Homo sapiens: one gene and its partners. The protein of the gene in region 4 purifies or fractionates together with the protein of the main gene of each other region. This does not show direct contact. Each region holds a gene or a part of one and is shown on either strand. Other genes may lie near its edges.

Region 1 (3,102 bases), on a different chromosome or scaffold from region 4:
GTGGAGAAGTGATACATACCAAAGGTGGGTGGTTCGATTCCACACCATCTTGTGCTCCTGAAGTGTCAGCCGCTGAATTACCCCCTTGCAGTTTTCCACAAACTGGCTGTTAAGCGTTTCTTTAACAGACCGCACAGCTCCTAAGTGGACACAAATTCTATTATTTCTGAAGAAGTTTTCTGCCCTCTCCTTTCAGATAATTTAAAATGTGTTTTCTGGTCTGGCACAGTAGGTCACACCTATAATCCCAACACTTTGGGAAGCCAAGTCAGAAGGATCACTTGGGGCCACGAGTTTGAGACCAGCCTGGTTAACACAGTGAGATTCCATCTTTACAAAAAATTAAAAAGTTAGCAGGGTGTGGTGGCATGTGCCTGTAGTCCCAGATACTTGGGAGGCTGAGGCAGGAGAATCACTTGAGCTCAGGAGTTTGAGGCTGCAGTGAGCTATGATCACACCACCATACTACAGCTACCTGGGTGACAGAGCCAAGACTCTATTTGAGACGGAGTCTCACTCTGTTACCCAGGCTGGAGTACAGTGGTGCAATCTTGGCTCACTGCAACCTCCGCCTCCCGGGTTCAAGCAATTCTCCTGCCTCAGCCCCCCGAGTAGCTGGGATTACGGGTATGTGCCACCACATCCAGCTAATTTTTGTATTTTTAGTAGAGACGGGGTTTCATCATGTCGACCAGGCTGGTCTCAAACTCCTGAGCTCAAGTGATCAGCCCATCTCAGCCTCCCAAAGTGCTGGGATTACAGGCATGAGCTACCACACCTGGCCTCAAAAAAAAATTTTTTTTTTAATTTAAAAAATGTTAAAAATTAAGTGTTTTCAGTTGACTTTTGCTAATTCATCAAAACAATGACATTCTGATCACCATAAGTCACATTTTAGAAGCACTCTCCTAAGCACTTTGCATGGATCACATAATTTGTCTTATAACAACCCCATAAAGGTAAGTATTATTTTCGAGATCAGGCAACAGTGGTTCAGGGAGGTTTGGTAATCTTAGCGATCACAAAGCAATAACCCATGTCTTTCTGACCCCAAAGTATGTTCTGGACCATGGACCCAACACCACAAAAGGCTCTTCATATTAGCCAAGATGATCTTTATCAATCTTTTGGGAAAAAGACGTTGTTTTCCATTGACCAATAAGCAAACATACCTTCTATAACAGCATAAGGCACGCATTTTCCTGGAGCTTCTGAAAGAATACTCTTTAAATCTTCACCCAAATGAACTTTTTTAGCTCCCTAAATAAAAAAAAAAAATTAAATTAATTGGCCATTGAACACTGACATGCTCAATCAAACTTACAGGCAAAAAAAAGAAAAAGATTCTATTTTTTTCGTGTCAAGAGAATATGGAAATTGGACAGGAAGGTGACTACTGAGAATCAGATTTCAAAGCTGTGTACATCAACAGGAATGGAGCCATGCCTCTGCCTCTTCCATCACTGCAGAATGGGGGTGCCACATACATTCTTGTTCCAGTTAACCAAAACCTATACTCCTTTTCATGTTAAGACTTTTTAGTGAAAATATAAAAGGTACTAGTCAATTTACATACCACAGACTGAACATCATTCAATCTCTTCCTGACAACACAGAGCTATGATCCAAAGGGTTCAGGTATAAAGTACCTAACCTATCACCTAGCACATGGCAGTGGTTTGAGAACTGGTAGGTGTTATTATTAATATTACCACATCTTTACGAACCAATGCTCTGCATTGTATGTTATTAAAAAAACAAAGCAGGGGGAGTTGCCTTTGCTTCAACAGGAAGACTGTTAACTGGTGCCAAATGCCATTCTACATTTTTTTTTTTTTTTGAGATGGGGTCTCACTGTTATACCCAGACTGGAGTGCAGTAGTGCAATCATGGCTCACTGCAGCCTCAACCTCCCAGGCTCAAGTGATCCTCCCACCTCAGGCCCCCAAGTTGCTGAGGCCATAGGCATGCACCACCACACCTGTCTAATTTTTTTATTTTGCAGAGACAGGGTCTCCCAATGTTGCCCAGGCTGGTGTTGAGCTCCTGAGCTCAAGCGATCCTCCTGCCTCGGCCTCCCAAAGTGCTGGGATTACGGGTGTGAGCCACCGCACCCAGTCTGTTCTACTTTTTGCCTTTTTCATGCTCATAATTAAGTGAGCACGGTTCTTTCTGCTGCTGTCTTCCTCTAACAATCCCTAGTTCTCCTCTGCCTTCCAACTCAGAGCGTCCAACCCACTGCACTTGGGAAACCAATCCTGTTACTGCTGTTTCAAAAATAAGAGAAAAGGAATAAAATCAACAATCATTTCCTGAGCATCTTTGTGCCAGGCACTGTGCTGGGTGTCAGAGATTCAGGACGAATAAAGGACCATCTCTGCTTTCAGGGTATTCCCAAAAACAACTCTTAAGGATGCCAGATTCAGTAACCTCTAAAGAGGTGATGTGATACAAGATGTATATGAAGGTCACTCTGAGTTTAAGCTACTGCTACACAGTAAGTGACAGGAGCAAGGTCAATCAAAATTTCTTAGCCACTTACACTGTGAAGATACCAAAATGACAGCAATAACAACTAACAATTTACTCATTATCTGTCTCCCTCCACTAGAATGTTAAACTCTAGGAGGGCTTGGACACTGTTTGTCCTGTTCACTGCTATCCCCCTAGTGCGGAGAACTGTGCCTGACACACAGCAAGCATTTAATACATTATTTGATTAATAAATTAATGAATAAGTAAGCATTTAAATATACTATGTACCAGGCAATATGCTAGGCACTTTAAATGCATAAACCACTTAATGCCCACACCATCCCTTTACGGTAGACATTATTATCACCAATTACAGACAAGGAAACAGGCTCAGAGAGGTGAAGTGATTTGCCCAAAGTGAGACAGCTAGTAAAGTATCCACCACAGGATGGCCAATTCGAATTTTAAAGGGGGAAGAGGGAGAATATGATCAGAAAGATCTGGAGTTTAATCTAGCGCCAATGCATCCACTGTGACTTGGGACAACTTCATTTATCTGAGTCTCAGGTTCCAAAACCATAAAGGACAGGGAAAATGCAATTTCACAGGATTTTTATGTGGGTTAAA
Region 2 (6,455 bases), on a different chromosome or scaffold from region 4:
AGAATAAATGTCCCTACATGGCTTTACCTGTTACATTTAACATTTTTCCACTGAATACAATAAACTCTGTTCCGGATATGGAATTGGGGTGTGCTGATTAATCACGTTATTCGTTAAGAAAAAGAGAATATGCATATCACATATTTTCAAATATTTCAAAATATTATACCTCGAAGACTAAAAGCATTAAATGATTTAACATCTTTCCTTAATGGCTCTGAAGACACATGTAGTGCCTATGATCTGTATAAGACTATGAGCATCAAGAAGACCTGATGTCATTTACAAATCAGGTTTCCCTATTCATGAAAACAGAGCCCATACTACAAAACATGTTAAACTTTTAAAATTTACTTTTTGTACTTCGAAATAACAGTGCATTTCTTTTCAAGGTTTCTGATAATTCACACTTTCTCTACCATTTCTCTGAATTGATTAAGGCTTTATTGAATAAAAATGACTGCTTACTCATCCCTTGGCTTCTAATCATATAATATTCCTGGGGATGTCAGAAGAGGTCCTATCTACACATAAATTCAAAAAGAAAAAATAAGATTAAAAAATACAAACTAAAAATAAATAAATAATAAACAAATAAAATTAAATAAAAATACAAACTAGGTAAGAAACCATACTCGTTCTTATTCTGAAGCTTACAATTAGAGAGGAAAGGAGGTTGAAAATCTGGCTTTCATAAGAAGGCCTTATGGAGGGAACAAACAAACCGAATGGAAAAGTTTTATGAAAACTACTTGTGCATATATAGGAAATTTTGGAGTAAGTTACAAAAGGAATCTAGTTTATCTTCCCATCTTCTACCTGTAGGTAGTTGTAATATGCCCAGGACAGATATATTCAATGTGGGAATAGACATGATTATATATAAATGGTCAGTAAAATTATGCACATACAAGTGGATCAGACATCTGGGAACTATATTCCATTAATTAAATATAAGTAAATAAGATAAATCATTTTATTCCTGAACCAAAGACTTACACAGTATTTTCCTTTTGAGTTTTCACAGTCTGGTCTCTATGAAATGGTGTTGTAACAGTCAATTTGTGACCAATGAGGGGGGTGGAAGTTAAAGAAGGCATTTCCAAGTCTGAGTTTTCATGGTTACTGGAAGTGTTTAAGAACTAAATATGGAGAGAAAGAAAAAATACTTAGATTAGATGGTAATTCTTTATTCTCCCCAATTTAAAAATCACACCTAGATAACAAGAATGTTTTCCTGACCCACTATATTAAATAATAAAGATGCTAACAAGCATGTTATATTGACTAGGGTATTGTTTTATTTCAATTGAGCACCCAGGATTTGGGTGTGGTTTCCAAGAAATAAAATTTAGGGTCATTGCTGAAAAACTTGCAAAACTGTGAGAAAATACTCTCAATAAATGACACTTGTCATTAAAGAGAATGAGATGTGTTCTTTATTAACATTTAAAAGGCTTTAGTGATTTTGGGGAAAATAATAGTTAATAATTAATAGTTTCCTTTCATACTTTGTTTTTTCTCTTTAATAATCTATGAACCAAAATTAGTATTACAGAAGGTTTACATTATATGGAAAATTCTTGAATAATAAACTGTGTCTCTCAGAACACTAAAGTTCTGGGAAAAAACTAGGTGTTCCTTAAACAATTCCAAGGTAAAATAAATTTGGGAAACACAACATATCATAATCTCCTCCTGGAAATTCACAAGGCACAACGGCATATTAATAACTCTGAGAAGGCCTGCAGTTAAAAAAAAGAAAGTTTTTAAAGAAATGGGATCTCGCTATGTTCACCAGGCTGAACTTGAACTCCTGTGCTTAAGCAATCCTCTTGCCTTAGCTTCCCCAGTAGCTAGGACTACAGGCCCATGCCACTATGCCCAGCTAAGAAACCTACTTGTAACTTTGTTTGATTCAGTGTTTCCCAAATGTATATACCTATATCATACCTAAATCTGTTCTTAAAACAAATTCAACAGATACAATTGGAAAAATGTTTTAAAGTGCCAAATTATCTATTAATTTAATTATTTAAATAATTTAGGAACACAAATCTCTGATAAGAATTGTGATTTTCATGCCTTAAAAAAGCTGTATGAAATAAAAATATTCCTTGGCAAAAACTGCACTAGTAAAATAGTATGGCACAACTCAAAAGAGCCAATGTTGAGAAACTGAAATTAAAAATATGTTCTTTTCCTTAAGCATTTGTTTCTCATCCTCTTCCCAAACTCTTCCATTTAAAGATGAATTGGAACCTTTAAATTTTCTAGCTTTAAATTTTCTAGTTGCAACCCAAATGTTATATAAACACAATTTGGTTCCCTCCTCCCCTGGGTCAGTGAATCGCATAAGAATAAATGAACAACGAGGAAGAAATGATGTTAACAATTTTAAAGGGAGGGATCAGATGGGAGAAAAAGAAAGGGACAGAAATGTTAAACTCTAGTGTTGAAGGAAATAAAAGTACGTTTCATGCAACTATCTTTCAAAACCACCCAAAAGTAAAAGAGAGAGAATGATGCCAAAATCAACAGTTAGCCTGCAGACAGCCTAAACTTTGGGAGGCAGTATAACTTAGCAACAGCTAGATTCAACGACAGAATGAAATCAGCAAAGGCAGCAGTAATTAGTCATTTGTTCCGAAGTATTAGTTTCTAGATTATTAAGGCTCAGGTGTCTGTTGAAAATGAGTAACAGCTGTGCAGAAATTGTGTTCTACCTGCGAGGGAGAGAAGGGTAGGCTTTTGACAGGGGAACGCTTGGGAGTTGAACTGCTGACGTCAGCAAATATGAAGGAGCTACAGTCTCCAGTGGCTAAGGGGCTGGCCTGGCCCCGTTTTTTTCGAAGGATGACCAGTGGAATTGTGCTGTGCCTTGCAGGAGGTAAGACCTTGGGTGGGTCAAGTGAACTCTCACTCAACATACGTTTGTTCACCCTTGGGCTAGGTTCTCCTGCAGGTTTAGTCCCATTGCCCTCTCTTTGCTGAAGCTGTAGGGCTTTGCCTGTGTGATGTTGGCTAGGTGAAAAATCTGCTTCTTCAAAGAATTCAAAACTGCTGAGATCACACCATGATGAAGAATCCTGAAACAATGTGGGAGGCACAGAACTTTGAGATAGTGTGTGCCATCATCACCTGAAACAGCACTGAGAGAGAGATGCTCAACGCAAAGCAAACACTAGGCCCGTTGGTTTGGCTTCTTGAGCAACAGCTTCAAGATGAGCAGTTGCTCTATTATACTGCAGTAGAGCAGGGTCTAGTGGGCTGCCTCAAGGCTGGCCCTCTGATGTGCTGCAGGGACCTCCCGACACTCTACATCTGCATGCAATGGAAAGCAAAATGAAGACCTTTTCTAGATGGCATATTACGGCAATGGTCATCTCCTAACCAATGAGTGTGCAATAAATGATTTTTAATCAACTGGGAAAGGAACCAAGTGTTCGCTGAGGAGGTGCTGAATACAAATTTGTTTCACGAAAGATGATTCATCTCAGTGAAGCAATGGGACCAGTAATCAATAATCACCATTTTGTGGAAAGAGCCAGGTATGACCAAGGAGCTGATTATTACTTCAAATACACTAAAAGATTGCTTTCAGCTCTGAGTAAGCCAAATCATTAATGTGCTGTTCAAAAGCAAGACAAAATTCTAGAGAAGCACCATGAAGTAAGCAAAGAAAAAAAAAAGTTAAAAGTAACTCAAACACCATTCCGTTCCCATAATCCAAGCTCTGCTTTATAAGTCATCAATCTGACTATTTTTAAAAATATGACTTTTGAAGGAAAAGTGTGAAAATGTGAAAAAAAACTCTTCCTTCAAAAGTCCTATTTTGTAAGTATTTATAAATACTTTTGTCTCTCTCGGTAGGCTATGAAATCAGATCTTTGAAAAAACATATTCATGAAGATGAAAATCATACTTCTACCTTTACATTAATATATGCTAATAACAGCTTGGCTATAGAAAATGGCAATGATTTAAGAAATGGGTTTTCTAATTTATCTTCCAGAATCGTTAACTTCCCTTCACAATTCTACTTACAGAATCTATAAATTGGAGTGTTTCTGCAAATTCTAAGAGGTTCTTAACATTATCCAGAATGGTGCCCTGGTGGACGATCATGCACCTTGCTGGCGAGGCGCTTTCTTCAGGTAGGGAGCCAGGATCCGCTGGCAGAGATGGAGTGGAGTGGTGTTCTCCCAAACAGGAAACAGGTGCACTGTCTCCATGAGGTCTGGTGTGGTCGGCAATGGTGGTGCTGTGCCACCCGGGGTAGCTGCATGTGTGGTTCTGTGTCTAAGGAAGGGGGAAGGGTGTAGAAATAAAGAGAGGACAGAAGAAAGGGAGAAGGAACTTAGCAATGAAGTTGCACAAGGTATCAGATGCTGTTGGAGGAAAGATAAGAGTAGTTGCATCATCCCAAACTTACGCCTATGAAACAGTTGTCAAGATGTTTCCTTTTATCAATGCAAGACCCTGTTTTTAATAGTGCTAGAGGTTGTACCTATATGATTACCTTGTTATCATTTTGTAAAAATGTCAAATCATAGGTCTATATTTCGAAGTATAATTATCATATTGTCTTAAAATTCCACTTTAATATAATTTGCCAAAGGTCCATAAATGCTTGCTGTGAGTGAAGAACTGAAGAACTGTCCTATTTGCATTCTAACCACAAAAAAGCTAGAGGACTCAGGAGTTAGAGTTGCTTTGATCTACACATATTCTTGTTGCTTCTATCCCTTTCTAATGCTACAGATTGCACTGATGCAGTGAAGCACTGCCAAATCAACGTGGTTAGGAAAGCAGAAGAGCAAATTAACAGAAGTCTCCTTACAGTATGACCACACAACAGGAGAAATTGCAAAACATTAACTAAAGTTAAAAAGTGGTCGAACTAGCATGTGCACATAAACATCTTATTATTTAACAAAAAATAAATTTACCCCTAGGAATACCTACTGGGCATCACTTCTCTTTTATTGTCTTTGTTGGTTAACTATGTATGTTGCAAAGCACAAGGAGCCATCCCAGTTGGCTGCCCAGTCGCTAAAGATGTCAGAATTCAGTAATGGCCCACATAACTTTCACACATGCAAATAAAAGAGAGCAGCTAATGTTATTTATGAAGAGGTTTTATATATAACCTTTTACATGTATATACTGAACATGCATCAAATCATGTCTGAAATTATAAAATATGAAAATATAGGTTAACAAAATAATAGAAAAAAACCAAAATGGTACCATATAGATACATAGCTCTGTAGAAAATGCAGATTTTCATTCATTTTATCTTTGCTAGTCTTTAAACTGATTATAGTCCTTCTGAAGAAAAAAATTGATGATAACAATCATAAGTGGATATTGCATTTTTATTGCAATTACAAAAAGACTGCTTCCAATTTAATCAGCATATAATCTGATACCAACTACATTTTACTACAAGCAACTTCTTGTGTTGAGACATTCTGAATGGATATATGGAGCCTTGCTAAGTGTAATATTTAGAAGAGAAGAGCGCTTAGGTAAACTGAGGCAAAGCTGCTATCCCCTCATTCAAGCACATGATGACAGTCTTACTGGTAGCACCTGCTGTCCTTTTAGCTCATTCTCGGTTGACATTAGGAGCAATTCTAATTCCTTTATTCGCTTTTCCTTCTCAGGGTCTTCATCATTATAGTGTCTCTGAAATTACAAAGTAAGGGAAATAAAGACAAAGGTCTGATTGGAAGCTGCAAATACAATGGGTGTAGCCAATATGGTCATGAGGTGCCGCACAGCCCAAAGAGCCTCACTGTGACAACACCACCAACCAAATTTGGCTCCTGCAGAAATCTTTGTGAATGTTATTTCAGACTTAAGGGAGTGATGTGAAATCTCAGGCTAGAGTGGATGCTGACTGATGAGTTATTTCACCTTGCAACATCAAAGAATCAGAAAATTCCAGAGCAAACTCATTCTAGAAGACAAGATTAATAGATTGCTGGCCAAGACTCTGCTCTCCTCTCCATGTTCCCTTTCCTTTTTACTTTAGTTGCTCAGGTAAAAATATGTGTTTAGATGAAAGAAATAAGCATTTCTTAAAAGTGGTGCTTTGAACAGTGAATGATCAATGATCTTACCTGAATGGCTGCGGCAGCTGGCTGAGGGACATTGACTATATTTACATGTAACGCTACAGGGTATGGAACATGACTGGAGACCTAGATGCAAAAGACAAAACAAAGGCCACGTCATTCAGGGCTACATATGCTTCAGGGGACTTGGCTTCCTGAGGTTTCGTTCTGGGACTGAGAGAAAAAAAACACTTTACTGATAAAATACACTAAACAAATTTTTAAAACCTTTTAATGTGAAATTTAGCCAGGCCTTTAAAATGGCTAAACAGCTAAAGGAACATGGTGAAAAATCCTTGGGAGGTGTTGATGAGCACTTTAAATTTTGGG
Region 3 (6,455 bases), on a different chromosome or scaffold from region 4:
CTTTTTCCTCTATTGTATCACCACTGCATAACAATGCCATGCACATAGCAGGTGCTCAATCTATTTGCTAACTAAACACATGATTTAAATAAGCATACTTCTGTATGGTTTGATTTTTTTAAAAAAAACCATAACAGCCAGGCAGGTCAGTGACAGCATGATGCTTTAACACAGCAGTCCCCAACCTTTTTGGCACCAGGGACCAGTTTCATGGAAGACAATTTTTCCATAGACAGGGGTGGTGGTGGGCGGCGGTGGGGGGTCGGGGGCGGTGGTTTCAGGATGAAACCGTTCCACCTCAGATCAGGCATTAGATTCTCATAAGGAGCCCGCAATCTAGATCCCTCACATGTGCTGTTCACAATAGGGTTCACAATCCTATAAGAATCTAATGCCACCACTGATCTGACAGGAGGTGGAGTTCAGGCATAATAACGCTTGCTCATTTGCTGCTCACCTCCTGTGCCACCCGGTTCCCAAGAGGCCACGGACTGCTACCCATCAGTGGACTGTGGGTTGGAGACCTGTTTTAACAGAAGTAGGAAGCATTCCCTGTGCACCAACTGTGCCTGCAGTAATACAATAATGCTTCCGAGTAACCTTTAAGTATCACATTTTCCATTCACTTTTCTAGTTACCCATTCTGAGCTGCAAGAACACAAAAACGTTCTCTGATAGCTTTTACAGCAAACACAAAAACTGTCACCCTTACATAAGCAGAATATGAAAAAAAAAAAAAAGTCACTTCAATCCCTCCCGTGACCACCAATTTAGCCATCATGGAAAGGCAGAATTCTAACTAATTTTGCTTGCATAGGCATGTAACAAAATGCCTCCTTGAAAAATCTTTGTAAAACTGATGCTCCAAGAAAGTGTGCCATAATTATCCTGTGGCTCCTGCATTCTTCCTGGTATTCTACCACATACTCTCAGGGGATGTACACTTGATATGAGAAGTATGAAAATATGTGACTACTGGTTCTTTCCATACGAAAGAATTCTTACTTAAGTATCTTTTTAAAAATAAAGAAGATTTTTGCTTTCTCAAAAAAGATTTTTAAATGTCCATTACTACTTGGGCCCTTCTAATTCACACTGGAAGTCTAATTCATTACTGTGAGTAATCTGCAAAAAATAACTGAAGAAAGGCAAAATATTTGCTTTTGTGGACCCTTGAGAGATAGAAGAAATAAAGGTCACACCAGGCAAACTGACTCTAGCATCCACGTTATTAACCTCAACACTATACTGCGTAGCCAGGCAGCCTCCCTTTTATTTTAATCACCCATTTTCAAGGGCCCTATGAAGCAAATAGTTCATTATCTTTTCAAGGCAGGAAGTTAAACCAGGAATAATAAACTGCTCTCAAAGAGATCTCAACTGAGCCTAACTCACCCATAAAGTTCTAGCTGAGTTACTTTCATCAATATATTGGGCAGTACACTGGAAATTTGTTAGAATGCAGGTAGTCTCTTGGATTGGCAAAAACTAGACAAAGTGGCTTTCACTTCAGGTATAATATGTCATTACATTAACATTCATTCGTTAGTCAAAGTGAGGTAAGAACATGCTTACTCATAGCAGCTTTTCCAAAAAAGTTGCTCATCATATTCCCTTTCCCTGGTGCCTTGTTGCCTGCTGCAGATGCCTACAAGCACAGAAAACACATATGATTTTTTGCTGGCATTTAGGCTGTTCATGAAGTAGCAGTCTCAAACAAACTCTTCTATAGCAAACTGTTGCGATGGTATAGTCTCTATATAATCATGCCAAAACGCGTAGGTGTTAGATATAAGAACAAATCTAGAACAATAATCCACACCAGACAGTAACTGGTGTTAATCTCTAAAGCTTAGTTTCTTATATATCTTATAAAATTAATTATCCATGGATATAGCTAAACTTTTCTTGAGCACATTTAAAAACTATTTAATTTGACAGAATTAAAAAAGATCAGAGGCAGTATGTACACAAAGCGGGAAAACCTAAAACATTACATTTTTAATCATCAGAAGTAGATCTGAATTCCTGGTTCCCACCATTTAGTAGCAATATGGGCTCCAGGCAAATTACTTAAGTCTAGGTTTCAGTTTTACCATATGCGAAAGGGAAATAGTTAATATCTCCCTCACAGAACTGATAAGAGGATTTAAACAAAGACACTGGCACACAGTTGAAATTCAATAAACGTTAGTGTTTTCCTCCATCCTTCTTCTTTCCCAAGACAGACGCTTGAAAATGACAGTGATCTGAATTAAATACACTTGACACTGGAAAATGACAGTGATAATAATAATAGTAACAACAATAATTATGCTTTTCTGGATTTTTAAAATAGTATCTTAATGATACTTTTCTTAAGTCAATGCCCTTGAGTTAGTTCAGATGACTGAACAATAAAAATCTAAGAGAAGCAAATAAGGCAAAAACAAAACAAAAAAACCTGCATAAAGTATAAGAATGGGAAATACACTAGGAAGGAAGGTATATGTTGCAAAGCCCAGAATATAAGATGTTCCTCAGAAAGACATATTGCAAATAAACATTTTTTTGAATGTCAACAATTCTCGAGGTGTTTTCACATGTTTTCATCTGGGTTTCACAACAATCTTGTAATGTGCACAAGGTAGGCATTACCATTTTGCAAAGGAAATCCAAGGTTTGGTGAGAATCATTATCAAAAGCAAAAGAACTCTTTCAGATAACAATATCAAGTATTAAAGGGTTCAAACTAAAGTAGAAAAATCAGAACTGAATATCAGAATCTTATATAAATAAACTACTACCACTGCAACCATTAATGCTTTTCTAGTTACCCACTCTGAGCTGCAATGAAGGGGTATCTTCAAAGAAGACTTACATTTGTTACTTCTTTAGCCTCTGTTTTCGTTTCCTTGTTGGTTTCTTGGGTTTTAGCAGCAGCTTTGGAGGCAAACATTCCCATAATTCCTTTGGGCTGCTGGGAAACCTGCTTGGATGCAGGTGGGCCATGACCATTGGTGGTCAGCTCATTGTTGGCTTGTGTCTCACTTGACATGTGAAGATGTGACTGCTCAAACTTTTTGGAAGACGAAGAGGATTCAGCAGGAGCTCTAGGGACGGCAGCTGCACATTGTATAGCACTAAATCTGGGGACAGAAATGTTACATTAAGTTAATGTCAGCATATGCATTCTTGGGTGGTTCAACAAAAAAAGAAAAAAAAAACTAATGTCAGTATAAAACTTTATTTTCAAACTCTTGCTTCTTCCACACAATACTTAACTCTAATATTGTTTAGAATCGACTTTAGAAAAATGTATGAAACTCTCTATTACATAAAGAAACAAATATTAGAGAGAAGTGAGTCACTTTTACTAGGTTATACATCTAGTTAGTAATAGATAGGATTGGAATTAGGTGCCTTCTACCACTAATTGAATATTCTTGTTTTTGATAAAAGTATTCTAATTCAAAAGAGTAGGAATGCAACCAACAATAATAAAAGATGCAGTAATTTCATTATCCTTGGGAAATGAAATAGCCTTTGTTTTTAAAGACCTTCCTCTGATAGGGCTAGATTTGCAATATTGACTGAATCAAAACTAAGCTTTAAATATTAACAAATTTCCTGGCAACTCTCTTGGCCAGAGTAAATCATGCTGTAGGGTTGGGCGCATTGGCTCACGCTTGTAATCCCAGCGGTTTGGGAACCTGAGGCGGGCGGATCGCTTAAGCCTAGGAATTTAAGATGGGCCTGGGCAACATGGTGAAACCTTGTCTCTACAAAAAATACAAAAATTAGTTGGGTGTAGTGGCGCATGCCTATAGCCCTGATTACTCAGGAGGCTGAGGTAGGAGGATCACCTGAATCCAGGAGGTCAAGGCTGCAGTGAGCCATGAGCTCATCACTCAACTCCAGCCTAGGAACAGAGTGAGATGCTGTCTCAAAATAAATAAATAAATCATGCTTTAAAACAAAGAAGAGGCCAGGTGCAGTGGCTCACGCCTGTAATCCCAGCACTTTGGGAGGCCAAGGCAGGTGGATCATGAGGTCAGGAGTTCAAGACCAGCCTGGCCAACATGGTGAAACCCCGTCTCTACTGAAAATACAAAAATTAGCTGGGCGTGGTGGCACGCGCCTGTAGTCCCAGCTACTCAGGAGGCTGAGGCAAGAGAATTGCTTGAACCCAGGAGGCAGAGGTTGCAGTGAGCCAAGATCACACTACTGCGCTCCAGCCTAGGCGACACAGCAATACTCTGTCTCAAAATGAAAAACAAAAAAAAATGGGAGAAGCTGGAAGCAGAGCCACTGGCTCCTATAACCTATAGTCCTTTACAGCCATTTGTTAATAATTTCTAATAATACTAACAGCACCGGACAAGTAAGTATGCCCAAGGCCAAGAGAAGAAAATTGGTGGAACAGCTTGTGTGGCATATTAAAGGGAACATACATCTCTCTCTAATCATTATAGAAGTGCCGTTTCACACAAATCCATAATGTAACATTCCACATTGTGAATGGGTAATTGATTTAGCCTTCTCAAAGGATTGTACTTAAAGCAAAGTTCCCCAGCTTTTTCTAACAAAGAAAAATATTTTATTTTTCCCAGTCTTGCTTATTGAGCATATGTAAGACCTCCTTGAAGTCTTATTTATCTTTTTTATTTCAGGCACCCAGCTCAAGACCTGGCACATAGAAAAGTGCTGGAAACGACATGTTGAAAGAATGACTAAGTGAATGAAAGTGAGGCTTCTGGCTTCTCTCCCTTCTTTAGTGTATCACCTTCAACTTGGGGTGGGAGATTTCTAAACTATGTGGTGATGGCAATTATCTTAAAAGATCAACCAGGCACAACTTCAAGATTAACTGCTAGAATACCTGGCCTAATGAAAAAAAAAAATCCCTGATACATCATTTCATCTCAGAAGTAACTTTAGACTGGGCAGCCCCAAAGCTAGAGTCAAAAGCTCCAAAAATCTTCCACTGATTTATTATGGTCTTCATCAGAAAACTCTGTATTTACACACATCTTTTATGCATCAGAGTTAAGAACAGACGGAAATCATTTGCTTTCACCCACTGCTCTTCCTCTCTGACCTTGCAGTGCTTCCATATACAAGGAAAAGAGTAATGTTTTATTTCACTGTCAACGTCTGAAGTTGGCCTTGAAACAACTCTTTCTCCTCTGGTCTGAATTCTACACCATAGGGTCAGGACCAGGAATTGGCAATGAGGAAGAGACCGAGTTAGGCTAGGAGTATGTCTGATGACAAGAGATCTCTGCTCAATCCTAAAATTTCAACTCTCTTCATGTCACGGCACTTCTTAAAACACACGAAATCATAAGTGAGATCTCAGTTGGCCCATAATTCTCAGGACTAAATACAAACTCATTTGTTGGAGATAAATTCACTTTTCTACTGAGGATACTTTAAGTATTTAGGTAAAGTTTCACTGAAGTGCTTCCTATTACCACATTTCTACTTGCCATGTTTATTTTAGTGGGCCCTGGCAGATTTCATTTTGAACTTTTGCGTCACTTTTATTCTTGTTTGCTTACTTGCTAGATATAACAAGGGAACTGATTTTTAGAGCCTGGAATACCCAACTAGATTTTAAAATTTTTTGAAATCTAGTAATATATTTCAAATAAACTTATCAGGGTGTTAATATTTTCTTGAAATCCTTCCCTAAAAGATAAGAGACTTGTAAATTATTCCTCTTTGGCCATATATTTATTTAATAAATATTTGTATGCTTATTATACTCAAGGTTTTGAGCTAAAGAAAAAAAAAGAACTAATGTCTATCATTAATTCACTCAGTAACTACTTATTAGTGTGCCAGGCACTATTTTGGGTATATAGTTAACAATTTAGACACGATCCCTATTCTCATGGAACTTATAGAAACTATGGCAATTCTATATCTTTCTCTCCTTGAGGACCCATCTTTATCAGTCATACCACCTCCCCAGGATTTTCAACCTTTTCTTCCTACAGCACCTTTCTAACAACCCAAGTTCAAGTCATTCTCAACTTAAGAAATGTATATATCCTTCCCGTCTCAATCCCTCCTTAGCTACCACCCTCTTTTCTGCTTTGCAGTCTAATCTCCTGGAAAGAGCTGTCCATATTTGCTGTCTCACTTCCTCTGTCCCCATTTACTTAGCTCACCAGAATCTGGTCACTCCACTGAAAATGCTCTTACCAAGGCTATCACTAAATGTCATGGACAATTTTCACTTCCTAACTTACTTGGCTTCTCAGCATTGTTTGACATTGTTGACTGGTTCCTCCTACTTGAACCTCTTTCCTTAGGGGCTGAAACCCCATATACTCTTATCTCTGGTGGCTCCCCTTGGGCCCCTCTTTTTCTATTCTTCCCTTGAAAAGCAGCTATCATTAAATAGTGCTTACTATGTGCCAAGTGCTATTCTAAGTGCTTAACATATAATAGTCCATTTAATCCTC
Region 4 (6,455 bases):
ATGTAAAAAGGACTGAAGTGTAGCAAGAATAGGGATTTCCAGATACGGTAAAATCCTACCTTGCTTAGACAGTGTCAGCAATTACTATGCATCCCTGTCAGGGAATTTGGAAGCCCAAAGAAACTACTATAAAATACAATGCATGTGTTTCTCTATGGCATGGCTGTCACCGTTTAATAAGATTTTGCATTGCCTATACAAAATGAGAATTATTCCCATACCATCCTAACTCCCCAGATATTTGACTTTTATGCATAGAAGTTCCCTCCTAGCATTTCTTAAAGTTACGAGATACATAGATAAATCTTAAAAAGCAATTTATTTTCCAGAAAAGGGCAGCAGGGGAGACACTTAAACTTTTTGTTTTCCCTAATGTTTAGTACCAATGATGGAAAACAGAAAAGATGCCCTTCACATCAACAAATTGGTTATTTAGTAAGGACTGACCTCAAGTTTCCATTGGATTCCTTCCACTTTCTGAAATAGCCTTCTGCCCTCTGTACGCACGGCTGATAGTTGTGCACACAGGCGAGGAGTAGTAGTTGACTCCGCAGCATTCGCTCTGAGACTGAGCCCTCGTCTGTCCATGTCTGCTTATCAATGAGGTCCCTTAGCAGCCTGATGAGGAAGGCCTGAGGGCGTTGTACAGGGAAACAGGGACCAGTATTGTCACAGGTCATTTCATGTTAATATAATCCATTATGGTCTCAGATGATGGGGGCTAATTTTTAAAGCATAATCTAACTTTTACTGTATAAATCATGCAGCACTGTTTAATTATAAAAGGGCCAAAAACAATAAATAATGATGAATGACTTTCATATTTTCATAACAAACTTTTATAAGATATCCATCTACTTAAAGTCAGGATGAATTGCGACTTTTAAAACAAACTCAAAGAGAGTTTACATGACTAAATTTTGAGAGCAAATTATGCAACAAGACTTCAGGACATTTTGCCAAGCATAACAATTTTGTGCCTCTTCCTCAAGTACCATGAAGAGTCCCAGAAAATCTGAACGTCAGCCATTGTAATAGGAAAGGAAAATGAAATAAAAGGTTTGTGAAAGGAAGGAAATAACAAATCCATGCAAATTAAATAGAGTCTAAGAATGCCATTCCTATTTTTAGTGCCAAATAAAACCAAAATCTTGCTAGTCCATCTAAATACTGAACTAATATTTATTTGCTTTTCCTTAATATGTATATAAAGATACACACACACACACACACACACACACACACACACACATACACACACAATGATTAACACTTTTTAACACAAATAATAATTACATAACTTTTATTTCAGGCTTTTACCTTGAATTGAGTTTCCACTTCATTCATATCTCTTTTCTCCATTAACTTATACATAGGAATCAGCTCATTCAAACCTTGAAACACGGGCATAATTTCAGTTTCATGTTTCAAGTACAGGGATAAATCCAAGGCCTTTTCAATGGACAGCTTCCCAATGCTGACCAAGAGACACTGTGGTTAGTGGTTTAAAAGTAAATCCGGGAAGTCAACTTTTTGCTTCAAAATATATTTTAATCTTCTAGCAAAACAAGCAATCAGATATAAATGTCCCTTATAAATAGATAACTACGGCCGGGCGCGGTGGCTCATGCCTGTAATCCCAGCACTTTAGGAGGCCAAGGCAGGTGGATCACCTGAGGTCGGGAGTTCAAGACCAGCCTGGCCAACATGGTGAAACCCCGTCTCTACTAAAAATACATAAAATAGGCAGGCATGGTGGCAGGTACTTGGTATGTGGGAGGCTGAGGCCGGAGAATCACTTGAACCCGGGAGGCAGAGGCGGTGAGCTGAGATGGCACCACTGCACTCCAGCCTGGGCGACAGAGTGAGACTCCATCTCCAAAAAATAAATAAACAAACAGATAGATAACTACTATATAAGTCTCTTTTCTATCACATATAACACAACATCCGGCATGTTTACACTAGGGAGGAAGTTTCTCAAACAGTAACGTCTAGGGCTAACGTGGATAAGCCGGAAAGGAAGCACATCAGCATCTATCCCTGTGAAACACTGGATTGAGTGGTGAACTTCTAGAGTAAGCAAGGGATTTCCATCAAAGACCCTTTAGGAAGCCTGGTCAAACAGACTATCATCTGGTCAAAACCATGAGTTCCTGGAGGAAACACATTTTCTTCTCCATTTCAAAGACACTGCATATCCTTAGAAACCCTTCATTACAGAGGGTTAGTGTTAAAAACCTCAGTGGTAGGGTATATATTATATAAGTTAAAAAATAAAAAAGAAGAAGCCCTCTAAGGCTCAAGCAGAAATATTCTACAGAGGGGAATTTTTTAGGCAGAAAGAAACAGCTAGGTAAGCAACCCATAACTTTCTCCCCCATTGCTTTTTCTCACTTCAGGAGGCCCAGTATGGTGGTGAGAAGAACCAGAAGGCACTCAAAATTTAGGCCAGAAGGATACGGGTATGAGGAGAAAGAGATAATCCTTCCCACCTGCATGCTTCCTCTTAGGACTTTAGGTCTGCCTACATGTTGAAGAAGTTTGAGTTTTAGGCTTTGGGAGCATTTCCTTAAAAACCATTGTCATGGGGGAGGAAAAAAAAAGGGTAGTGTTAATTCTGTCTTCACACACTCAGAGATCATTTGGTTGGGCTACATTTTATGAGCTATATTCCATAAAGATGCTGCAAAGTTCAGGTATCTGGTTTAGGAAAGAAAAAAAAATCCCTTCTTTAACCCAAGAAATGTAATGCAAACAACTTGGGCCTGTGTCACTTAGTCTTCTAAGAAGACTTCAAGGCTGTTATAAAGACCCAGTGGTGGGAGAAACCTGATCCGGTATAGCGGGGCCAGAAGAAGCTGCGGGACCATGCCGCGGGGACAAGGCAAGGAGTTTCGCCAGGATGTTGATCTCCTGGTTATCTACACTTCCGCCTCAGTATGATCTGAATTATTAATGAGAAAGATTAAGATACAGATTCCTTCCTTCAAGTGCCTTAGTAGTCACAGACAGGAGGTTAATTATAAGACTAAAAGCAATCTTGGGTTGTTAGAAGAACTTAAAGGAAAACACCTTTCAACTTCTTGTTATCAATCAATCATTTTTGTCTTTAGAAATCAAGAATTTGAACAATAACAGCTGCTTTCAGAAATAAACCGCGACTTTGTGCAGCGTGTATTACCTGACGAGCTGAAATGCATTGTTAATGAGACTCGCCCGATCATTACTGCTGACTGCTGTGTGTGTTCCTTTTAAAAGGCCAGTCAAAGAGTCCCATCCATCATCCTCGTAATGCACAATGTAATAGCCATTCATGCCCACATTAAATTTGATCCATTCCACCTCTTCTGGGAGGATGAGCACATCTAGAGTAAATAAAATAAATCAAAGTTCCATTTGCTCCCCTGCCTGAAGAAAGCTTTTCTCATCCAAGATTGGGCAAGGAAATTAGAGAAGAGTTTAATACTGAAAAATTTGAAAACATCACTTATTTCTCTCAGAAACCAGAAAACAGCAACTCAATAGACAAAAGCTAACACTAGCTTTAGACATCAATTTTGTGAGATTTACAGATCTATGAAAAGAATGGCAACTACATCTCTGGCCATACATATGATATAACCCAGTAATGTTAACAAAGTAATAGTGAATGTTCACTGGTAATCCCTCCTTTTTAGCATTATATAATTCAGCTATAATCTCTATCTGGCAAGATATTGGCCATTCTTCTTTGAAACCAGAAAGCATTTTCAATCTGATCCCTTTTGCTTTAACCAAGATAAATAGCAAAAGAAACAGCACTTTAATCCTACACATTTTCACATTCCTCCTTGAATTAACTAGTAGTTTCCAAAATAAATTACCTGTTTTTGTTTTTAGCAAAAATCGATGGACCATGTCGGATTTGCTGGTGATGAATGTCAATGGAACATGCCACAGGTACCTAAAATAAAGGAGAGGTGGATTGTTCATTTGTTGATTCAATTCAACAAGCAGTTATTAAATCACCTATCATGTGCCAGGCACTGGTTAGTTTAGAACAAGATAGTACCAAAACTGCTACAGCCAAGCTCTCAAAACATCCCCAGTCTGTTTTCCAGCTTTGTAGGGAGTGTCAGCTCGGGCACTATTTCCTTTTCTTGGACTCCTTGAGTAGAGCTAAGAATTTGGACTCACGTGAACCCTGAAAGCCTTTTTACAGTGATTGGCTGATTGCATCTCAGAGGCCTAACTTCAGGACTCATGTGCCTCCTGAATAGTATATTAGGAAGGACACAATATCACCTCCTTGGGATTCCTGTCAATGATATGTAAGCTGAACCTGATCATGGAGAAACAGCAGAAAATCCAAACTGAAAGGCATTCTATAAAATAACTGGCCAGTACTCTTCAAAAAATGTCAATATCGAGAAGCCCAAAAAAGACTGAAGAGTTGTTTCAGAAAAAAATGGAGACCAAAATGATGCAACAACTAAATAAAATAAGTGATCCTGTATTAAATCCTAAGTCAGAATTTATTTTCTATTTTGCTATAAGGATATTTTTAGGACAATTGGAAAAAGTTGAATGGGATTTATAGATAATAGTATTATATAAAGTTTATTTCCCAATTTTGATAATTGTACTGTGGCTATGGTTATATAACTGAATGTTCTTGTTTTTTGTTTGTTTGTTTTGAGATGGAGTTTCGCTCTTGTTGTCCAGGCTGGAGTGCAGTGGTGCGATCTCGGCTCACTGCAACCTCCACCTCCTGGGTACAAGCGATTCTCCTGCCTCACCCTCCTGAGTAGCTGGGACTACAGGCGCCCGCCACCATGCCCGGCTAATTTTTGTATTTTTAGTAGAGATGGTGTTTCACCATGTTGGCCAGGCTGGTCTCGAACTCCTAACCTCAGGTGATCCTCCTGCCTCGGCTTCCCAAAGTCCTGGTATTAAAGGCATGAGCCACTGTGACCGGCCATAAATGTTGTTTTGTAGAAAATACTATGCTGAAACATTTAGGTGTGAAGGGGAATCATGTCACCAATTTACTGTCAAACAGTTCAGAAAAACATATGCCAAGTATATACATACAGACATATGTATATAGGTATGTATGTAGATAGATGGATATCGATTAATCAAGATTTAAAACCTCCTTAATCCTTTTGGGAAGATGGGGGAGGGAGGTGTATATATTATATATATATATGTGTGTGTATATATATACACATATATATGTATATATACACACACACATATATCCACACAAACATATACATATATATATAGAGAGAGAGAGAGAGCAAGAGAGAGAGGGAGGTGAAGAAAGTAAAGGAGTAAAGAGTTAACATGTATCTAGGTAAAGGATATATAGGAATTTGTTGTGTTATTCTTGTAACTTCTCTATAAGTCTGAAATTGTTTCAAGATAAAAGAATTTTTTAACGGTATCCATCCAGGGTCAATCAAGTTGCAGCATCTTGTTTCTAATAATATTCTTCTATAGCATTAAGCTGACAAACAGGTTCCAAATCTAACTCAGAAGAAGACAACTGAGTCTCTCATCATTCTCGGAAATCACCTAAATTCTTTTGTCCTCAGCTCCAACCAAATGCTAGGCACTATTGTAATCTAGTAGCAGTTGCTTAGGTTGGAGTTGATTTCAAGCCAGTAACCAGAAATTACCATCATATCAAATTACAAAATATGAGAATGTTAAAGTAATTACATCGTCACCTTTACTGAGAATAACCAAGGTTTAAAGCCTCCTTAATCCTACTGGGAAGATGGGGGCAGGGAGTATAAGTCAACTTCATAGGATACACAGATGCAGCTGAAATATTTTAGCAATAGTGGTAAGGGCATTATTTCAAAAGCAAGGTTCCATCCTACAAGGCAGATGTTACCTAGACAACAAAACAAATTTTACTCTAGGAGCATTACCCAGTGTCCGGGGCGCCGTCAGAGCCCTTCATGTAGTGCTCTTGCTTCATGTGTACATTCCTCCCCCTCACTGTGATGGTTATTAGGGGAAAACCCTTCTGCAGTGTCCAAGTGTTCATCATGGTTTTCACATCCACCCCTTCCTGATGCCAATGCTGGTGTGTACACAAAAAGGCAGACACATCACCCATTTAACCCAACTCTAAGAAAAGAGAGAACACCAGCTTATGCTCAAACAGCCGCTACCAGTTGCCAACCTCCCCTCTTAGGAGCACTTTCTGATCCCTTTCTCAGTGTGATGTCCCCAGCCATCACACCTCCATTAGAGCACCAGCTGTTTGCTTGTCATTTTCCTCCACTACACATACGTGTCTGGAGGACAGGTAGCATACCTAGTTCTGCCGGGCACACTTTGGGGCTGGCAATAACACTGGGCACAAAGCAGGCATGTGAATGAATGAAGGAAGAGAAGGGAGAGAAAGTGCCAGGTTTTCAATACCTACCTAACTATGCTGGTTTTGGACAAGC
Region 5 (6,455 bases), on a different chromosome or scaffold from region 4:
TGAGCAGTTTTACGTGAGGGAGGATATTCTTTGTAGCATAATTTATATGAAGAATTAGAAACACCCTAAGGTCCATCAGCTAGGGGAGGACAGCAGAGGGGACGGGGAAGCATCAGGAGGGCTCGGCAGCCACAGCAGGGGCTGGGCCGGCATCTAGCAGGATCCAGGTCTTTGTGGGACAAAGAATCTTAGAGAAGCAACGGGGACACAGGCTGTCCACTGCAGCACCAGTGAGTTCACCAAGACGAAGAGTTGAGCACAGAGTGTGAGACAGGGATTTGCAATGAGGAGTCATTTACCATGAGCGTGTATACATGACTCAATATTGTATATTTAAGGGAGTAGAGCACAGTAATTGAAGACATGGGATTGAAGCAGAAGTCCTGGCTCTAGCACTATTGTGAAAACACCCATAAGTTCCCTAACTTTTGTGGATTCCTCTGTGTTCAAATGGGAAAGTGGTACCCATCTCCTGTCCTGTGTGTGATCATCGAATGAGATACATGTCAGAGGCCATGCACATCACAGACACACAATACACACTGGCTATCATCAACTAGTTATCATACATGTTCCCAGGCCCAGGTCATTGTCAGAATGTTCCCTCCCATCTCTATTCCTGTGTATAGACTCTGTAGTTTCTGTAATGATCAGATGGCTGCCCCTCCTCTGATTATCTTCTTCTCATACCCCTACAGGACAAGAGGACCCTGCCTTGGTGTGAGAGTGAGGGAAGAGGAAGCTGGAACGAGGTGAGTTTCTGTAAATACTAGCTGGCAGGGCCCCAGGAGATAAACACTCTGGACATTTGCTGCTACCACAGAGGGATCTGCAAAGACCCAGCCCCTCCAGCCTCCCTCTGTACACAGGAGGCTCACCTTCGATCCCACAATTTGTTTTCTCGTTCTCAAGGGTTAAGGAAAACCTTCCAGTCTGGACAGTGACTGGAGAGCTCCAAGGAAAGCCCCTCGGTAACCCAGCCGCTGGCACCATGAACCCAGGTAGGCTCGCTTCCTCTTTCCTGGCTAGTTCCTACTCGCACCTAGAATGGAGGGTGGCACCTCCACAGCTGAGTGAGCCCCAGAAGAACCCAGATGGACTAGGAGGCCAATGAGTCTGCCCCGAGCAGCAGAAGAGGTCACGTGGAGTCCCCCGACCCAGGGGTCTGGGGGTCATCTGCATCCTGACCTCTCCTCGGGGTGACACGGCCCAGGTGCCCACTTCCTCCCTACCCTGTCACCCAGCAGATGACTCAAGTGGGGCAGGACAGCCATGAGGAAGTGGAACAAGCAAGAGAGGGGAGTGGGGGAAGAGCAGGGTCCAGGAGGAGGGGAGGGGTGGGAGAGGAGGTTGACCTGCAGCCCTGATCTCTTATCTACCGCTCTTCTCCCTGCTGACCCAGGGTTTTTTCCAGCACAGGCCGGTCCCCTCCCTCCAGCTCTTGCCCTGCACCAGCCCCTCTGTTCTGAGTGGCCCTATGGGAATGTATCATGCTTGACCCAGCTTCCAACTTAAATGGACCCCGGTCTGGCCTTTTCCAAGTCCCTTCTGTGTGACCTGGAGCTCCTTACCTCCCCTCTCGTGTACCATGAAAATAATATTTCCCCATGTTGTCACGAAGATTAAATATTATAAGGGTACCTGGCCTGGCCAAAGCCTGCCACACAGTAGGGCCTCCCTAAGAATTAGTTTGCATCCCCTCTATCTCCTCTATCTATCCCCTGTTGATTCCAGGTGGAAGCCACCCAGTCCCCTCATCTGTGTTAGGGCACCCGCCCTGCACTGCCCATCACAAGCACCTGCTGACCAGGGATGACTGCCTCAGGCAGGGCCTCATTCCCATGATCTCAGATACCCCTTGTCAAAGAAAAATCTGAGGCACAGTAACATTTATTTGAATAAGAAGGAATTCATGAATTGAGAAAACCAAACTGGAAGAGGCTTCATGTTATGATGAAAAAGTGTCAGAGACAAGTATTTATCGAGTAAATATGAAACTGCAATAAGGACATTATTTGATTGGTTGCAGTTACAAAACTGCCTGTTTTGATTTACCTTTTTGGAAAATTCCTGGTCACATTGGTGCTGGTGGGTTTAGGAAGTTCTCCGAATCCAGGAGAGACCAGACCTTAGCCTTGTCCAGGTTTTTGACTCCACTGAGAGAAAAAATTTGAGTCAAAGAAAAAACAAATCAGCTGCAAAGCAGAAGCACAGGCTCAGGGATGGAAGTGCAGGTGGACTCAGAAGAGCCAGTTGGGCCCAGTGGGGTTTGGGGTTTCTGTCTTTGATGGTTTATTAAATTAAGGGGTTGGAGCCTTGGGAGGACTCTCTTGCTGGCTTGCGGCAGCTGCCTTTGCGCTGTGTGCTTACCTGGCCTTATTGTTTCTCTTTCTCTTCTTACAATAGGACACTAGCCCTCTAGTAGGATTAGAGCCCTACCCTTGTGATCTCATTCAGTCTTAATTGCTTCCTTAAAGGCCCAATCTTCAAATATAGTCACTCGAGTTTAGGGCTTCAGCATATGAATTTTGGGGGCACACAATCCCTCTATAGCACTGATGACTCCATCAAACATGTCCCACATCACAGTTGTCCAGGAAAAATTAACATGTAACCACCTAATGTGCAATGGCTGTTATGCTCCCCTACACTATCCTCCAACCTTATCCTTTCTTCTTTCCAACTAGAGAGCAGTATCTTTATTGAGGATTACCTTAAGTATTTCCAGGACCAAGTGAGCAGAGAGAATCTGCTACAACTGCTGACTGATGATGAAGCCTGGAATGGATTCGTGGCTGCTGCTGAACTGCCCAGGTAAGCTCCATGGGGTTAACTCCATGGGGCGCCCCAGCGATGCCACTCAGATCTCCCCTGGGCTGGTTGTCCCTGACAGGCACACCTCCTCCAGGCAGCCCCCTCTGCTGGGCTTGAGGATGACCTTCTCGGCACTCCAGGAGGAATATTTCCTCCATGTCCTTCGCTGGCAGTGAGTAGCCTCAGGCTGAGGGGATAGGAAGCCCACAGGAACAGGGTCATTTCTGCCATCTGCTGGTGATGGGAACTTTGCCAGTTACTTTCTCACTTTCAGCCTTTCTTCATCAATGGAGTTTTATTATGAGAAAAATGAGATCATGCATGTAAAGTGCTTAGCATAATGACTGACACATAGTAGGTGCACAGTTAACGTTAACATCTTACAAGCTTGGTGGAAAGAGACCAGGGTTAAGGATCTTCTTCTTGAAGATGGGAGCCCAGCAGGACTTCCTTTGGGAAAAGTCAGAAAAATCCTAACCTAAACAATATGTGTTCCTGGGGATGCTGGCTGGGGCCTTTTTTCTCATCTGAAGAATTCCACAAACACAGCAGGACCCTTCTGCTGGTCCAGGATCCTGAGAGGCCTAGTTCCTGGGCTCTGGGCTTATGTCATGGAGACTTGGAACTGTCTTCTGTCCAATAGGAATAGCAATTCAATGTCATAGGAGTGTGGTGAAGGCCTTAGAGGCAACTCCAGGTCAAAGGTGGGGAACCAAGGACTAAGATCCTGCTCAAAGGCCCAGAGAGACCGGGACCAGTGTCAGAGCCTGGAGTCAGGATGGAGTAAGAGTCAGCCTTGGTTTGGTAGGACAAGCAGGAAGGCTGGGGCACCAGGGCTGGGACTAGGGTGTGGAAAGAGAGGCACCAAGGGCTTGAAACTTAAGGAGGTCATGAACTTGCAGAGGACATGTGAGTGGGAGAGGGATATTTCTTCCCTGTCTGGATGATCCCAACACTCATGGGCATACAGGGTCATGGTAGCCTGTGTCTCTCACCCCATGCCTTGGAACTGGTGAGTTCTGGACTACCCTTTCAGACCTTCTTCTCTTCTACACAGAGAAGCTCCTTACCATGGCATGCCTTAGTGACCATTTCCAAAGTAGAATGAGTTGCTGCCAATTTGTGTAATTTCAGGGGTACTGAGCAGACTCACAAAGTCCCAACCGAGGAGGAAAACACTTCCTCTACCATCTTGACCAAATTCAGGTCTTTTCAGCATTAGCAATTTATATAGATGGTTCTGAAAGTGTCTTGAGTCTTCTAGTGGTTCCATAAAATTGCACATGGCCTTGCTGTGCACACAGGTGAAGCTGTCACTGCTAAGGCATCAGTTAGGCTGGTGACACCTGCGAGTGAGACCTGGAAGGTTGGGGGTGCAGGTGGTAGGTCAGGAGGCAGTAAGGTGGCTGGAGCGTCCATGTGGAGCCAGAATGAATAGCCAGATCTCCCACTCCAGTCAGCTGGGGCAGTGGCCGCACCCAGTAGCCTTCAGCCAGGTGAAAGGGCATGAGGCATTGGAAGGGAGCAGATGCCAGGCAAAGTGATCTCCTGTCTTTCTGAGGTTTTGTTTTTGTTTGAATTCAAAGTACTCAGAGATAGCCAGACTGCAATGTCTGAGGGCACCCTTACCTTTGACACCACCTGCAAATCTATGGGGATTCCTAAAATCATCCTTAGATTTTATAATTCACTAGAAGGACTCACGTAACTCACTGAAAACTGCTATTGCACGATTGTGGTTTATCACAGGGAAAGAACACAGATTAAAATCAGCCTAAGGAAGAGACACACAGGGCAGAGTCTGGGAGGATTTCAGGTGTGAATCTTCATTGTCCTCAGGAGGCTGTGTTCTCCTGTGTGAATGTGGGACAAAACACATGCGGTGTTGCCAACCAGGGAAGCTCACCCAGTTAAGGAAAAATTCCTGTGAATCACATTAAACCAGAAATGAAGCCTTTATTCAGGATTGTTGTTACAGGGGAGGGAGACTGAGCCCAGCTCCAAATATAGTAAAGACAGAGGGGGAGTCACAGCCAACACCAGGGTGGGGGCGGGAGATGGAACAGGACTGACAGGAGACGCCAGAGTGGGGGGTTCCTGCTAAACTGGCCTAACAGGATTCTCGCCAAAGGCAGGTCAGACCCTCAACCACCAGTGGTGGGGGTGAGGAGCATGATCAGATAACAAACGGTGCTCAGACAGCAAGCGGGGAGGACCCTCCCTAAACTGATTTGGGGAGATTCTTGCTGAGCCAAGGTGGTGCAAGTCCAGAAAGCAGTGGGTGAGTGTGGAAGGCCAAGGTCGGCGCCTAGTGGAGAAGAAGCTCTGAAGAGCCCAGCTGGAGTTGGTCAAGGAGAAAGTCCTTCTTTCTCAACCCATGCCTTAGTGTCCAGAGTATCTGCTGGGGCTGGATCACAAGCTGCCCTCATGGCTAGAGTCTCCAGCCCTTCCCTGAGATCTCACACCTTTAGTCCCCAAGTCCTCTGGAAGTCAGGAAAGACACCAAATAGCCCCAAACCCTATCATCCATCACATCGCTATACTGTCCCGTGGCCAAATCACCAGGCAAAGAAAGATGTTCCTACCAGGCAGGACATTCCAGGGGCCTGGAGATCACTTCCCAGGAGCTGAGGACAAAGGGAAGGCCTCTCTTTGGGTAAAGTTCATGCTTCACTTTCCTGCCATCCTGGTAATAAGGTCTCTTTGTCTCACTCTCACTGCTCTTTGTTCATCTGCAGAGTTTTCCCTCTCCAAACACTTTGGCAGTCACGGTGTTGACCTGCCCTTGAGTGAGGAGGCATCTTTATCAAACACCTACCATGAAAGAGCATCTGAGGTGCCTTTAAGATATTTATTTCCATATGGAATAAGTACTGAGGAATATCTATGATGAACAAAATGTGTTTGAGTTTGAAAGATAATTAATTCCATTTGTAAAATTTGTTTCTATTTGATTGATAGTGAAAGCTCTGCAATTTACACAGGATAGAGATCGCATGGAGCTCATTTCACAGATAGGGAAACTGCATTTCTTAATCCTTTAACCTTTCCTTGTGCAGGGATGAGGCAGATGAGCTCCGTAAAGCTCTGAACAAGCTTGCAAGTCACATGGTCATGAAGGACAAAAACCGCCACGATAAAGACCAGCAGCACAGGCAGTGGTTTTTGAAAGAGTTTCCTCGGTTGAAAAGGGAGCTTGAGGATCACATAAGGAAGCTCCGTGCCCTTGCAGAGGAGGTTGAGCAGGTCCACAGAGGCACCACCATTGCCAATGTGGTGTCCAACTCTGTTGGCACTACCTCTGGCATCCTGACCCTCCTCGGCCTGGGTCTGGCACCCTTCACAGAAGGAATCAGTTTTGTGCTCTTGGACACTGGCATGGGTCTGGGAGCAGCAGCTGCTGTGGCTGGGATTACCTGCAGTGTGGTAGAACTAGTAAACAAATTGCGGGCACGAGCCCAAGCCCGCAACTTGGACCAAAGCGGCACCAATGTAGCAAAGGTGATGAAGGAGTTTGTGGGTGGGAACACACCCAATGTTCTTACCTTAGTTGACAATTGGTACCAAGTCACACAAGGGATTGGGAGGAACATCCGTGCCATCAGACGAGCCAGAGCCAACCCTCAGTTAGGAGCGTATGC

Evidence for each region.
Region 1: the proteins of ERAP1 (region 4) and MUL1 purify together in Homo sapiens (affinity purification with mass spectrometry; 2 studies listed by BioGRID and IntAct, with this or other methods). This does not show direct contact.
Region 2: the proteins of ERAP1 (region 4) and MYB purify together in Homo sapiens (co-immunoprecipitation; one large-scale study listed by IntAct). This does not show direct contact.
Region 3: the proteins of ERAP1 (region 4) and POLD3 purify together in Homo sapiens (tandem affinity purification; one large-scale study listed by IntAct). This does not show direct contact.
Region 5: the proteins of ERAP1 (region 4) and APOL2 purify together in Homo sapiens (affinity purification with mass spectrometry; 2 studies listed by BioGRID and IntAct, with this or other methods). This does not show direct contact.

Annotation. Positions count from the first base shown.
Region 1 is NC_000001.11:20,502,050-20,505,151, forward strand, and holds part of MUL1 (mitochondrial ubiquitin ligase activator of NFKB 1), read right to left. Parts: intron 1,261-3,102; coding exon 1,173-1,260; intron 141-1,172; coding exon 20-140; intron 1-19. UniProt on the Homo sapiens protein: Exhibits weak E3 ubiquitin-protein ligase activity. E3 ubiquitin ligases accept ubiquitin from an E2 ubiquitin-conjugating enzyme in the form of a thioester and then directly transfer the ubiquitin to targeted substrates.
Region 2 is NC_000006.12:135,193,595-135,200,049, reverse strand, and holds part of MYB (transcriptional activator Myb), read right to left. Parts: intron 6,213-6,455; coding exon 6,132-6,212; intron 5,695-6,131; coding exon 5,590-5,694; intron 5,091-5,589; exon of another isoform or gene 4,969-5,090; intron 4,303-4,968; coding exon 4,048-4,302; intron 3,325-4,047; exon of another isoform or gene 3,142-3,324; intron 3,090-3,141; coding exon 2,727-3,089; intron 1,143-2,726; coding exon 1,000-1,142; intron 525-999; exon of another isoform or gene 469-524; intron 1-468. UniProt on the Homo sapiens protein: Transcriptional activator; DNA-binding protein that specifically recognize the sequence 5'-YAAC[GT]G-3'. Plays an important role in the control of proliferation and differentiation of hematopoietic progenitor cells.
Region 3 is NC_000011.10:74,615,210-74,621,664, reverse strand, and holds part of POLD3 (DNA polymerase delta subunit 3), read right to left. Parts: intron 3,129-6,455; coding exon 2,861-3,128; intron 1,649-2,860; coding exon 1,576-1,648; intron 1-1,575. UniProt on the Homo sapiens protein: Accessory component of both the DNA polymerase delta complex and the DNA polymerase zeta complex.
Region 4 is NC_000005.10:96,782,604-96,789,058, forward strand, and holds part of ERAP1 (endoplasmic reticulum aminopeptidase 1 isoform b precursor), read right to left. Parts: intron 6,083-6,455; coding exon 5,928-6,082; intron 4,504-5,927; exon of another isoform or gene 3,947-4,503; coding exon 3,867-3,946; exon of another isoform or gene 3,369-3,866; coding exon 3,185-3,368; exon of another isoform or gene 2,782-3,184; intron 2,466-2,781; exon of another isoform or gene 1,478-2,465; coding exon 1,321-1,477; intron 633-1,320; coding exon 448-632; intron 1-447. UniProt on the Homo sapiens protein: Aminopeptidase that plays a central role in peptide trimming, a step required for the generation of most HLA class I-binding peptides.
Region 5 is NC_000022.11:36,227,699-36,234,153, reverse strand, and holds part of APOL2 (apolipoprotein L2), read left to right. Parts: intron 1-698; 5' UTR 699-752; intron 753-912; 5' UTR 913-991; coding exon 992-1,001; intron 1,002-2,687; coding exon 2,688-2,814; intron 2,815-5,873; coding exon 5,874-6,455.